Regions from separate parts of the Homo sapiens genome. Here region 1 is linked to region 2. The links come from fine-mapping of genetic effects on gene expression. A gene starts in region 2. The other region holds a variant in brackets. All regions are shown on one strand. Distances are from middle to middle. Region 1 overlaps WTAP (WT1 associated protein). Region 2 holds the start of MRPL18 (mitochondrial ribosomal protein L18).

The links.
Region 1: its variant is fine-mapped to the expression of MRPL18 in esophagus muscle (GTEx, PIP 0.90).

What each region holds. Positions count from the first base shown.
Region 1 is chr6:159,740,169-159,743,077 of GRCh38, forward strand. It overlaps WTAP (WT1 associated protein), which reads left to right. Exons shown (of 8, transcript NM_001270531.2): 4 at 1,920-1,978. It also overlaps a transcript of SOD2 not described here. Among named protein-coding and RNA genes, the nearest start is that of WTAP, 14 kb to the left of the region's middle. The variant G/A (reference allele first, on the strand shown) is at 1,636.
Region 2 is chr6:159,788,872-159,791,780 of GRCh38, forward strand. It overlaps MRPL18 (mitochondrial ribosomal protein L18), which reads left to right and starts at 1,596. Exons shown (of 4, transcript NM_014161.5): 1 at 1,596-1,768; 2 at 2,069-2,255. The coding sequence starts at 1,717. TCP1 (t-complex 1) reads right to left here and starts at 731. Exons shown (of 12, transcript NM_030752.3): 1 at 534-731. The coding sequence starts at 597. RefSeq lists enhancers at 1-593, 594-1,257, 1,514-1,693, 1,724-1,783.

The DNA of each region.
Region 1 (2,909 bases), 49 kb before region 2:
GGCATTGTATACTTTTTTTAATGCCTTCTTACATAATTGCTCTGGTTAGTCTGTGCAGTCATTTTTTTGATTTAACTGTAGGAGGGGAAAAATCAGTAATCTTAATAAAGAATCATAGAAATGTTTTATTTTAAGATACCTTTAAGGTTTCTAAATCATATGCAGTGTATTTCCTTGAGGTCAGTTTAACATCTTTCCTTAGGGAATTCATGTAAGACTTTTAGGCGAGTTTTTTCTCTTTGATTCCCTTGGAGATTTTAAACCAGCTGCTACTTATTTAACTAGTCTGTGCCTTCTATCCTTGTGATATACATGTTCTTGCTTCAGTTTTTATATTTTTCTGTACTTCTAAAATAAATCGTTCTTTTATAGCCTCCACTGAAGATCTTTCTCTATACATCCCCAAATATTTGGTAAACTACGTGTCTTAGGTTGTAAGTGCCGTAAAAATAAAGCATGGCCTTGGCTGAACATCAGTGTTTACATAGAAAGTGGATTAGTTTGGTATTAGGAAGGTTTTTTTTTTTTCTTTTTTCTTTCTTTTTTTTTTTTTTAAGACAGAGTCTCGCTCTGTCACCAGGCTGGAATGCAGTTGCGCGATCTCGGCTCACTGCAACCGCCGCCTCCCGGTCAAGCGGTTCTCCTGCCTCAGCCTCCCAAGTAGCTGGGACTACGGGCATGCGCCACCATGCCCTGCTAATTTTTTTGTATTTTCAGTAGAGACGGGATTTCACTGTGTTGGCCAGGATGGTCTTGATTTCTTGACCTCATGATCTGCCCGCCTCGGCCTCCCAAAGTGCTGGGATTACAGGCACGAGCCTTTTTGTTCATTATGTTGTAATATTAATAACTCATGACAAGCCTGTTTTTAAGATTATAAAATGGTTTTCTAAAGCCAAATTTTAATTAATTGTACCTGAAGAGCAGCTTGAAAACATGGCTCTTAAGTATGCAGGATAGCAGACATTCAGGGCAGGGTGCTTTCCATTAGGAACTGCCTAATAAGACTAGGAAAAATCTTTATTGCTAAGAGGACCTAGCAGTGTATATATTCAGGGTAGAGAAGTATAATGAAGAACAACGGTCCCCTTGTATTCTGATAGCATATGGCATTTATGCAGGTTTCTGACAGTTAGATGTGATTGTTAAATTACAGTCTTGAAAAATGTTATATTCTCCCCCTGTGTTTACAGGCAGAAATTGATACTACCTTGAGAAGAGTCACATGGTATTTTCCCAAAAGAGCCAAGATAAAGAACCTTCAATTCTACATAATGAGGCACATTTCTAATATGCCTTTTGTTCTAAGTGGACAACATATGAAAGCAGCAGTGGGATTTTTTTTTCAGCTTCTATAATCCAGGATTATCCTGAACATCAGTGATATCAAAGTGAATCTGGGGTTTGATCTCACCCAGGGCATGCTTGGCATGTTCTCAGCAGAAAAAACCTTCTCTATATATCTCTTTTTACCTGTTTCCTGTAAAATGGGAAGGAATAATGAGGGACTATTTTATGATCAGTTAAACTAGATTTAGGCTGGGTGTGGTGACTCAGGCCTGTAATTTCAGCAGTTTGGGAGGCCAGGGTGTGAGGATCATTTGAGCTCGGGAGTTCAAGACCAGCCTGGGCAAC[G/A]TAGTGAGACCCCATCTCTACAAAAAAATGAGCCATGTGCCTTTGGTCCCAGCTATACAGGAAGCTGAGGCAGGGACATCGCTTGAGCCCAGACCCTGTTTGCGCCACGCTGCACTCCAGCCTGGGGGACAGAGCGAGACTCTGTCTAAAAAAAACTAGATTTAAAATGAAAAATCCAGAAGAATGCTCAGTATTACTAAAATCTGTGAGTTTATAGATATCTTCTAGTTTATTTAATAAACTATTTTATCGTAACAACTAATGTATGGATTTTTTTTTATTAGATGGAAACAATATGAAGCATATGTACAAGCTTTGGAGGGCAAGTACACAGATCTTAACTGTAAGTTTGAGTTTTAGCTTCCTAAAGACTGAATAATCTCCTTTTGATTGTTAAAATCAAAAGGATAGTTGTTTTTATTAAAGCAAATGTAATTTTTCTCGTGTTTTATTATAAGAACTGTACATAGGCACTGTGTTGGGTGCAAGAAAATATAAAGATGAATGAGACACAGTCTCAGTCATTGGAGAAGACAGAGGTGTAATAGTCATGTAATGGCATGACTTAGCAAAATTATATGCAAGGTTCTGAATATAGATGCAGTAACTCAGAACTACTTGAAACTTTTCTTACTTGTCCCTAACCCCTTCTGCATAGGAATTTGACTTGAAGCATGAGTTACTAGTCTAGAAGAGAAATAAACAGAAGCAACCAGTAACAGATTTATGACAGCTTAAATCAATATATATAACTTAATAATATATACAGATTTTTTTAAATCTGCTGAAAATAACGTTTATCATTTTAAGCCATTTTAGTCTCACTTTTTACTGTTTGAATCACATACTATTTGTTGAGTATAAAAACCAATATATATTGTTTTGTAACTTCAGAAGGGTTAATACCCTGAAATTCTAATTTTGCGTGACTGTGTTACCCATAGAAGTCATGAACATTGTGAAAGTTTAAGGCTAGGCACAGTGGCTCACACCTATAATCCCAGCACTTTGGGAGGCCAAGGTGGGAAGATCACTTGAGCCCAGGAGTTTGAGACCAGCATAGGCAACATAGGGAGACCTTGTCTCTACAAAAAAAAAAAGAGTCAGGAGGATCACTAGAGCCCGGGAGGTCAAGGCTGCTGCAGTGAGCCCTGATTGTGCCACTGGACTCCTGCCTGGGTAACAGAATAAGATCCTGCCTCAAGTTTAAAATACAAATTGTCCAGCAGTTATTACTATTTTATTTATTTATTTGTTTGTTTGAGACAGGGTCT
Region 2 (2,909 bases):
GTTTCCTGGGCTAACTCTACTGTAAGAAGCTGTCAACCCGGATACGGCTGGACGCCGGACGCCCGACCTCGACTGCAGCTGCGGGCGGACAGGGCACCGGGCTCATCCGAGGGCGCGCGGATGGACCTACTCTTTTTCTGGTAAATGGTCCTAAAATAAAACCTGGCGTTTAACATGGACACTCAGGGGGTCGCCCTGAAACAAAAGGGGGTGCGAGGCGTGGCCCGCACGTGCGAGCCCGGGAGGCCCGCTTTCCCGCGGAGGGCGCGTTTCCAACGCCGCCCCGGACACCACATCCACGCGTTGCCGGTCTCAAAACCCTGCCGCGCGCGGCGGGGCTCCTCCTCGCTGTGGGAAAAGTGGGGCCACAGCGCCCTGCCCCAGAGAACGGCGGGTGGGCTGGGTCCGGCTGCGGGGCCCCGAGGCCCTTTCTGCGGAGGTAAAGGAGAGAAACGAGGGCAGCCGGGGTCCGGTCGCGGTGGGACTCGGCCCTCCCCGGCCGCAAACCCGACCCAGGCCCGGCCCGCCCTTACCGTTTTGGGAGCGGATCGTTTCCCCAGTGCTGCGGTCACCGAACACGGACAAAGGCCCCTCCATCTTGACGGCAGCGATACACGTCGAATTCTGCTTACACCGCGGGCAACCAGTATCGCGGCCCCTCGGCCGACCGGCGACCACAGCAGTGGCTGCGACGGCGTGGAGCGTACCCGAGCGATGTCCCAGGAGCTACTGGGTAACACACCACCCCACCCGCTTCCCGGCTGCCCCGGCCCGGCCGCGGGGCACGGCGGGAAGGAAAAAGAGGCAGGGACAACAGGGAGAGAAACAGGACTGTGACGGAAGTGAGGCTCCGGGGAAGGGGCGGGGTCGGCATTTTTGTCCAATTAGATAGCCGATGGGAAGGGCGCGAAAGCGGAGAACGGAAGTCGGATGTTGGACCGCTGGGAAGAGGTTGAACCTTCGCCTCAAACGATGTTGCGCAGACGCAGTGGGCCATTCTAGTGCCTTCTAGAAAAGGTTGTAAGAAGGGTGGAGCTTGGAGCTGGGGTGTAACTGGAGGGGCGGGCCCTTCTCCAAGTTAGAGTTGGGGTTCTGAGCGAGTCGTGCGTTTTAGGTTTAGTGTCTTTTCCTTGTCCCTGCTCGGGGAGCGTGAGGCAGATCGGCCGGCTTTGCTCCAGGCCTCAGGAGTGTAAGTTTAAGGGCGCGAACCTGGGTGGGACGGGGCAGTTTTTCCAGCGGGCCATACGGGAAAATTTTTGGTTCGAGGAAGACAACCACCCTTTTTAAGGAGAAAACTGCATCTTGCCCTGCCTTATTCCTACGCGGTGCCCAGGTGGGGTGTGTGTGGACCAGTCGATGACCGCCCAAGCTCTCCGAGTAGAAAACCCAAACATGGTTTTGTGGGGTGTGTGCCTTTGACCCCGGACTTAAGCAACAAGCGTGGTCTTGGGCGTAGCTACGAGGTGGTTGGTGGGCTCCAGGGCCTGCGTGCCCCTCGACGTGAGCGATGATTGGCGATGAAGGATAACAGATCGCCTTCTCGGCCACTCAGTGGCAGGGGACTTGCTACTTCCGGGTCGGTGGCGTCTGGCGTGGAGAGTTTGGGGATCTACAGCAGCCAAAGGCTTGTCCCTGACTTTATATGGCTGCTCCTGGCGAGCGACTGAGTCGTCCGTGAGGAAAAAGAGGCGAGGCTTTTCCGAGATCGTCTCAGCGATGGCGCTTCGGTCGCGGTTTTGGGGGTTGTTCTCGGTTTGCAGGAACCCTGGTAATTAGTCTTGCCCCCCTTCTCCCAGCTCACTCGCCTGGGCTTGCACAGTACATTGGAACGTGCGGGTTCTATTTTGTATTCGACGTGCCGGATCGAAATAGAGCTCGCGGCACTGCGAAGACCACAGTAGGAAGTTAAGGACGGGGTCAGTGCTGACTCCACCCTGTGGGCATACGTATTTTTCGTCCCCTCGGGCCTAAAGATTGGGGGTGTAAAAGCGGATAGACGTTAGAGCGGGTTCGTGCGCTGTCCATATCCGTCATTTTTAAGCCCTGTGCGGTTTTTCCCGTTGCCCAGGGTGCAGGTTCGCAGCCCTGTCAACCAGCTCCGAGCCGGCAGCGAAACCTGAAGTGGACCCTGTGGAAAATGAAGCTGTCGCCCCAGAATTCACCAACCGGAACCCCCGGAACCTGGAGCTTTTATCTGTAGCCAGGAAAGAGCGGGGCTGGCGGACGGTGTTTCCCTCCCGTGAGTTCTGGCACAGGTAATTAAATCTGCTTGTGATTGACAAGGGCAGTGCACCCTACAGACTATTTTCATTCATTCAACTCCAGGCACTCTCCCAGGTAGCTGCCATGCGGCGGGTAGAGGCAGGGTTCGCGGAGGGGCTGGAACAAACAACAAATAGGTGTGATGGGGGCTATTTAAAGAGGATGTTACAGTAGCGGACAGGATACCTGCCTGTCTGAGGTGACATTTAAGAAGGTGAGATCTGAAAGAGGAAGAAGCCTAGTCATCTGCCAGAAAGAGCAGTCCTAGCAAAGGAAACTGCTGGGGTGAGGAACTGAAGGGCTTGTGGATCTGAAGCTCAATGGGCAGAGGATGAATGGCCCAAGATGAACATGGAGGGGTAAGGAGGCGACAGATGATTAGCTTTGTAAGTCAAGATGAGCACTTTAGACTTTCTTTTCATTATAGTGGGAAACTACGAGAGGATTTAAAGCTTGAGCCCGAATTGGTTTTTCAAGATCATTCTGGCTGGGCGCATTGTCTCATGCCTGTAATCCCAGCACTTTAGGGAGCCAGCCGAAGAAGCCGGATCATCTGAGGTCAGGAGTTTGAGACCAACCTGGCCAACATGGTGAAACCCCGTCTCTACTAAAAATATAAAAATTAGAGGGGCGTGGTGGTGCACGCC